2 linked regions of the Homo sapiens genome follow. The protein of the gene in region 2 interacts with the protein of the main gene of each other region in a pairwise test. Each region holds a gene or a part of one and is shown on either strand. Other genes may lie near its edges.

Region 1 (3,500 bases), on a different chromosome or scaffold from region 2:
CCCAGATTAATGCTGAAAATAACAAATAGTCTTCTTTTCCTTTTGCTACCAAAGAAACATTTTGACATAGGTTTTAACTGCAATGACTGACAAAAATAAAATATGCATGCATATTTTACACTAAATTGAGCAGAGATGAGTAAAAAGGAAAAATTGAAATTATCTGAAGACAGCACTGAGAAATCCTAGCTAAGATTTAAGAATTCTGTGCACAGAAGTGTACACTTGTAAGCAACAACTTTAAAACGTCAAATTGAAAAAGTCCCAAAATACATTGTTAGAGTGTGTTAGAGATTCACACACTTTGAAATTTAAGCTCTAGATTTTTACCAGACATTCTTGTAACATTCTTATTTTCCTTCAATCTGGAAATGAGAAGTGTGAGGCAGAGTGAACTTCACTTGGCTTGCCAAACAGGGAACCACAGCAAAGGTGGGAATCTTGATTCTAACCCAAAAAACTTATTTGAGAGATCACAGTATTAGCCCTATTGACATATGGGACAAAGAAGACAAAACTGCAAAAGGAACAATCAAAAAGAGGTTACCTACTACCAATGTCTCCTCCATAGTGGAGAGGTTTACTTTCTAAACTGCCACATTAGACAGTACTTATACCAATTAATCATTCCATATTGTGATGTAAGAATTTAAAAATACAAAGAATTTTATCTGTTACCTTATGTGAAACTGATTGTATCTATCATCACCAGATGGTTTTTTAATAGCTACAGCTAACTTCTTCCATCCTTCTTGAGGATCAATAAAATCTGACAGCTTCCTAATTAGTCCAACATTGAGGCAGCGCACATATGTTGATGGTGTTATGGGTTTGTTCATCTTCTATTCCTAAAATATGGAAAAATCTCATTAAAATTTTACAGTACTTTTAGAGATGACATCTGTAAGCTTATATATCACACTTTGCTATATCATATGAAATGTCAGCAACTGATTATACCATAATAAAGAAACATTCCAAAGTCAAGTCATTGATATCCTAAGATGAAATTAAAATTGTAATTCATTTGTCCAATTATCCTCTGGGTTTGCTTCCTTTTTCCACCCATTAATAGCAATAAAAATCGGAGGACTTTTTTCTGACACTGATATTTTCCTAGTAAAATTTATAGAAAGGGGCAAAAAACTTACCAGAAAAATTCTTAAGAGTAATATCAACAAACTATCAGAATTAGCATATTCAGAAATCAAATCTATTAATAAAAACATTTACCTTTCAATTTATGTTTCTCAATTAGTACTTATTTACAATTAAAATTTATGCAACATTCTTTGGTAGAAGTAAAAAAAAAAAACGTACTGAAATGATTTGTGTAGCATTAACAGATATGGTCCACCCACCCACTTTTCACATACTTTGCTCTTCCTTGACCTCTGCACATTTTTTGAGTCCATGAGATCTGCCTGACCACAATTCATTTGCTACTACGCCAAAACCTGTGCTTCACCACTTCAACTACTCTCTAGACAGAATCTTTATTTCTGCAATCCCCCTTTACTTCTGCTACTCCATCCTGGAGAGCTGCAGCCAGGGATAAATCTAACAACTTTACTTGTACACCAGGGTTGCTGATGTGAATACAAATTTATGGTAACCCCCTTTCCACAGGGCCTTCAACACTGCCGTTAATCCTTCCACTTGTCTTCTCTCATAGTCCTTAGTGACTATTTCATACCTTTACTTCTTTCTATGTGGATTTTATTTGTTCTGCGTGTCCCTCATTCTCAATAGGAAATGATCTTTCCTTCCAATTAAGACAAATAGACTCAGATATTCTTCTGTCAATTATTTTTGCTTCCCTATATATATTTTAAAAATACAATTTTAGAGTAAATAATGTGTTCATATGGAACAACATTCTAAAACTATCAAAAAGAGTAAAAAGCGAAAAGCTTCTCTGTATCAGAGGCTTCTATGTTAGTATTCACTTCTTCTCTTTGGACTTCTTTGACCACATCTAAATAGGTCTAGCTGCCCTTCACCTAATTATCTTTCATCACTGCACAATGTATTTGTAATCATATACTTATTTGTTTACCTGTTTACTGTCTCCCATATTCGATTTTAAGATCCATGAGTTCAGGACCATGCTAATTTTATTCATGAATATACACCTAGTGACTTGCATACTGTAGATAATGGTATTGTTCAGTATTTACTTTTGGAACAACTAAATTATTTCCCAGTACAGTTTTATCATCTCTATTTTACAAAGGTGGTAAGTGAGAGATCCAGGACTTACAATTATGTCTGACTCCAAAAGTCATGCCATACAACTCTGCTTTTATAACACAATGCATTGTTCATGCCATTCTCTATTTCAGAAAGACCATTCCTTTCCTTTCATTCATGAATACATTCAGAAAATATTTATGTCAGTCTTTGTACTAACAAGTGGGAGCACAGAGAAGAGAAAATCTTTGTTTCCAAGCTGTTCAGTATACCAGGGGATACAAACAGTGACAGGGAGTGATAAATGCTGCAAGAATGTTATGGGGCCCAGAAAAGGGGCATCAAGCAGAGGCAGTCTGGAATAGGGATATCAAGACAGATTTGGTTGGAGTAGGAGGTTGGAAGGATGAATGAAAGGGAATGAGGATAAGCCCAAAAGAAAATTCCAGGCAGAGGGAATAGCATGGGAAAAGGTAAGAGCATGTGTGTCTCAGGCAAAGAGCTTGCTATGGCTGGACCACAGGATGCCTGTGATTAAGTGAGAAGAGATGAGGGTGGAAAGGTAGCAGGGCCAGATCATCATGTACCTCATGTGCTAAGACAAAGAGTTTGAACTTATAAACTAAAAGTTACAGGAGAGCCACTTTAGGATTTTTAGGAGGGATGTTAAATAATCTTATATGGTTAAGTGGATTCCTCTGGATAAAAATCAAAGGGATGTATATTGAGGCAAGAAAATTAGTTTGAAAACTTCTGCAATAATCCAGGTGAGCAGAAAGGAGAGCTTGGAAAAAGTATAGGGTAGGGGAATGGAGAGGTAAAACGTCAAAACATTTAGGAGGCCAAATCAAAACAATTTCACTAGAGATGAGCGATTAGAAGAAAGGGAGATAGAATGAAGTTTTTTTTTTTTTTTTGGCTCATGTTAAATGTGAAATATCTACCTTTGGCACTATCTAGGAGCCTTCATACCAAGTACTTATATATGTGGTCTGGAGCTTAGGAGAGAGGTTTCAGCAAAGAATGCTCATTATGTAAGTATTCTCATATATAAGGGGTTTTCAAAGAGTTCATGGAAAATGCATATCGTGCAAAAACCATGCATGGATTTCAATTTTTTTTTTTTTGCAAAATGTATTTCCAAAATAAACTCATACTAACTTATCATTCATGTCTAAACAGGATCTAGTTGAGACACTGAGAAGAATAAGACAGTTTGAAAAGAACCTCTACCACAGCAACATGAATTCTGCTAAAACTAAAGCAAGAACAAACACCACATTTATGGTGGAGGTTGGTTGGAAGAA
Region 2 (3,500 bases):
AGCTTTAATTCAGTTTTTTAAAAAGCTCAAAAACTCCATTAAAAAAATTAAAAACTGAGGTATTTGCATGATCAAAACAGTATGGGTCTTTCTAATCATATGTTTAATTTTTTAATACTTTAAGTGAAATATTTAAAACTACTGAGAAAGGAGAGAGAATAGTGAGGGAAAAAAAATTTAAGTCCAGGTCATCCTGCTAGAGTAAAAATGGAAAAGATGTCACTTTAAAGTCAGTAAATACAGAGTGTACACTGGGCTCCAAAAGTCAGATGTTTTTCTCATATGCAATAAGGCAAAATGACATTTCTGTGAGATTAGCTAGATGTTTATTTTCTTTCTGGGGATAGAGTGATAAATTTGTTTCTAACTAATTGGGATTTCTCTCAACACTTCTAATGTTACACTAAGAAAAGAAGTTCCAAGGCTGAAAATAATGCTGTTAACATTAATAACTTTGGCCACTCCAACCAACATCTTCGTTTCATCTCATTATCTTTTCAAACATTCCTCCTAAAACCACAATTTTGGGTGAGCGAACTATCCTTCAACTCAGCCTTGCACACAGCAGTTGCGCAAAGCCAGGAAACCGCAAAGTGGCAGCACTCTCAAATCACAGTACAACTCAAGCCTCTCTCTACTGCCACCCTTCTCAAGCACCAACCCCCACTCCCCACCAGCCGTTCAGTCTCTTCCTATCACCCTCTACTTCAGAGAGACTGAGTCATCAGAGGGAAAGGTAACTTCCTATCCCCACTTCTACAAACTTGTCTCAATCCCAAACAGCCTTGCCCTCATCTTCAGGGACCATTCTCATCTTTATCTTTCATTTATTCATCATTTGCAAGTGACCTAGCAAGTCCATAATATGTAATCGTTTTATTCAAAGGTATACCTCTATCAAGTTATAGTGATGAGGCTGACATGCCAGTGACAGTCACGTTACAAGTGTGAGAGCCTGCCAGCTGGTGTGTCCATGTCAACGGCCTCTGCCATTCTCTATTCACCATTCTGACCTGGCATTCTTGAGATGACCAAAAACCATTTTGTTTGTGTACGTCAGAGGTGAAAACACTTAAAAAAGAGTTGAAAAGGAAATTAACTTGTGAGGAAACAAGTCTCTTTATGGGAAAGGAATTAGGGAAAAAGCTAGGATCCTTTACAAATACCCACATAGCCAAATTTTGCTACTAATTTTCACACTGAAGGGCAGTATTAAAAAACCTAGAAAAAGTTTAATCATAAGAATAGTACGCATAGTGATTTCTTGAGTCTATTACAATTTTTAATTCTATAAAAATAAGTCCTTGAATATTTGTAGTTTAGATACTATTTGAAAACGTTACCTGAAAACCTAGTTTCTGCAGACTACGGGCTAAGCGTCTGGCACCAAATTTAGCTTCTTCTTCACTACGGTTTTAAGGAAAGAAAAAGATTATCAGTTACACAGGAAATAAATGTTATACTGAGGAACATAACAAACTTTACATATGATTTTGCTGTTAAGTCTAGGAAAATGTCCTTTCCATGAGGGAAAAAGTAAAAAATAAAAACAAAAAACCCAAGTAGCATTTACCTTGTTGCTCCAGTGCAAATAATTTTTCCTGAGGACCAAATTGTAGCTGTAATTCTAGGTTTTCTAAGCTTCATTAATACTTTCTGGGGGGAAAAAAAATCTGATTACCTCATAAGCATTATTTTTCACATAAGGTTCTGTTCTATATAGTCATATTAATGTCCAAATACTACTCTCCAAGCTTATCCAAGACTGCAATAACTGCTCTCCAAATCTACCATTCTGAAATCAAGTACAATACCAAACACAAAGAACATATTAATCCAAAAAGACATTTGATTAATTAAAAATACAAGGTGTATAGAAATCTCTCACTCTATATACTTGAAATCAATGTACTCCAAGTATATAAACAATTCAACTCTCATTCCACCCCAGTCATATAACTGGAACTTGCATGGTTCTTCACACACACCAAATCTGTTCATGCTTCAGAAGCTTTGCAGTAGCTGTTGCTTTCATTTGGAATATTATCCCCTCAATATTCTCACTTCATTCAGGTCTCTTACCAGATGTCACCTCCTGAAGAGAGGCCCTCCCTAATCATTTCCCTGAAACACCCATCCCTTCATTGCTTTCTAATTCCTAATTCTGCTTTCTGCTGCTTCATGGTACCCATCACTACTTTATATTGCATCCTAGAGTTGAGATGCTTATTACATACTCAAGTTCAACATCGGCATCTTGAATAAAGGAGAAATGTTGGAGCTGGAGATGTAATTGGAAATTCATTTAAAGCTATGGGTTACAATGAAATAACTACAGAGTGTGTATAAATAGGTCAAGGACTAAGCTCCAAGAAAATATGCAAATTTAAATTTTCATTCCAACTTTTCATTAATGGAAATATTTGTTAGATGCTCATTCTATGTAAGAAAGACATAAATGCTCACTGACTAACATAAATGAATCAGATGTTTCTGCTTAAAATTTTTGTTACATTTTGTGTTCTTCATTCTCTGTCATATGCCATATTATCAAACTAGAAAGCTATTAAATCTGGGCAGACTCAAAATTCACCAAAGATCAAGATAAAATTTGAACTAAAATACATTATAAAATTTCATATACAAGTGACTGAGAAACACTTGACTGAGTTTATCCTACATTTAATTGTCTCTCACCATCACCAGCTTGTCTATCAACTCAGAATTTTCAATTAACCTGCCTTAAAAAAACTACTTCCTTTCCATATGTCATGCTGAAGTACCAAAGCAGTGTTAGGCATATTCCTCTCTAAACTTTTGAGCAGACATATTTATTACTTTTCTAAAGGAAGGATGGGATTGCTGACAAACTTGAAAATCTTTGTGAGTCACTGAAATTTTTAATTGAATTTAATTCATCTTTACTTAGTTTCTAGTACTAAGAATTAATGACGGCCAGGCACGGTGGCTCACGCCTATAATCCCAGTACTTTGGAAGGCTGAGGTGGGTGGATCACAAGGTCAAGAGATTGAGACCATCCTGGCCAACACGGTGAAACCCCGTCTCTACTAAAAATACAAAAATTAGCTGAGCGTGGTGGTGTGCACCTGTAATCCTAGCTACTTGGGAGGCTGAGACAGGAGAATTGCTTGAACCTGGGAGGCAGAGGTTGCAGTGAGCTGTGATCATGCCACTGCATTGCACTCCAGCCTGGCGGAAGAGTGAGACTCCGTCTCAAAAAAAAAAAAAAAAAAAAAAAATTAATTAATTAATGGCAATTTACATAGGTATCCTGGCATCTAATTTTTAAAGCTAAATAGAGCCTTGAGATACATTCTTAATTTTCATAACAAATGTGTAAAATACATATTCCTCTCGTCAATCTTTGGTTTATAATGACATCCAATGTCTTTTATAATGTTAATCTCAAAACACTAAGGTTTTATTATTACTTATTAATATTCAGGCTTTAAAATATTACAGGTTTAACAAAAACTAA

What was found. Proteins that work in one complex are often made in the same cells at the same time.
Region 1: the proteins of TBPL1 (region 2) and IRAK4 interact in a two-hybrid assay, tested with the Homo sapiens proteins (one large-scale study listed by IntAct).

What each region holds. Positions count from the first base shown.
Region 1 is NC_000012.12:43,765,451-43,768,950, reverse strand, and holds part of IRAK4 (interleukin-1 receptor-associated kinase 4), read right to left. Parts: intron 849-3,500; 5' UTR 840-848; coding exon 679-839; intron 1-678.
Region 2 is NC_000006.12:133,980,724-133,984,223, reverse strand, and holds part of TBPL1 (TATA box-binding protein-like 1), read right to left. Parts: intron 1,657-3,500; coding exon 1,574-1,656; intron 1,408-1,573; coding exon 1,344-1,407; intron 1-1,343. UniProt on the Homo sapiens protein: Part of a specialized transcription system that mediates the transcription of most ribosomal proteins through the 5'-TCT-3' motif which is a core promoter element at these genes. Seems to also mediate the transcription of NF1. Does not bind the TATA box.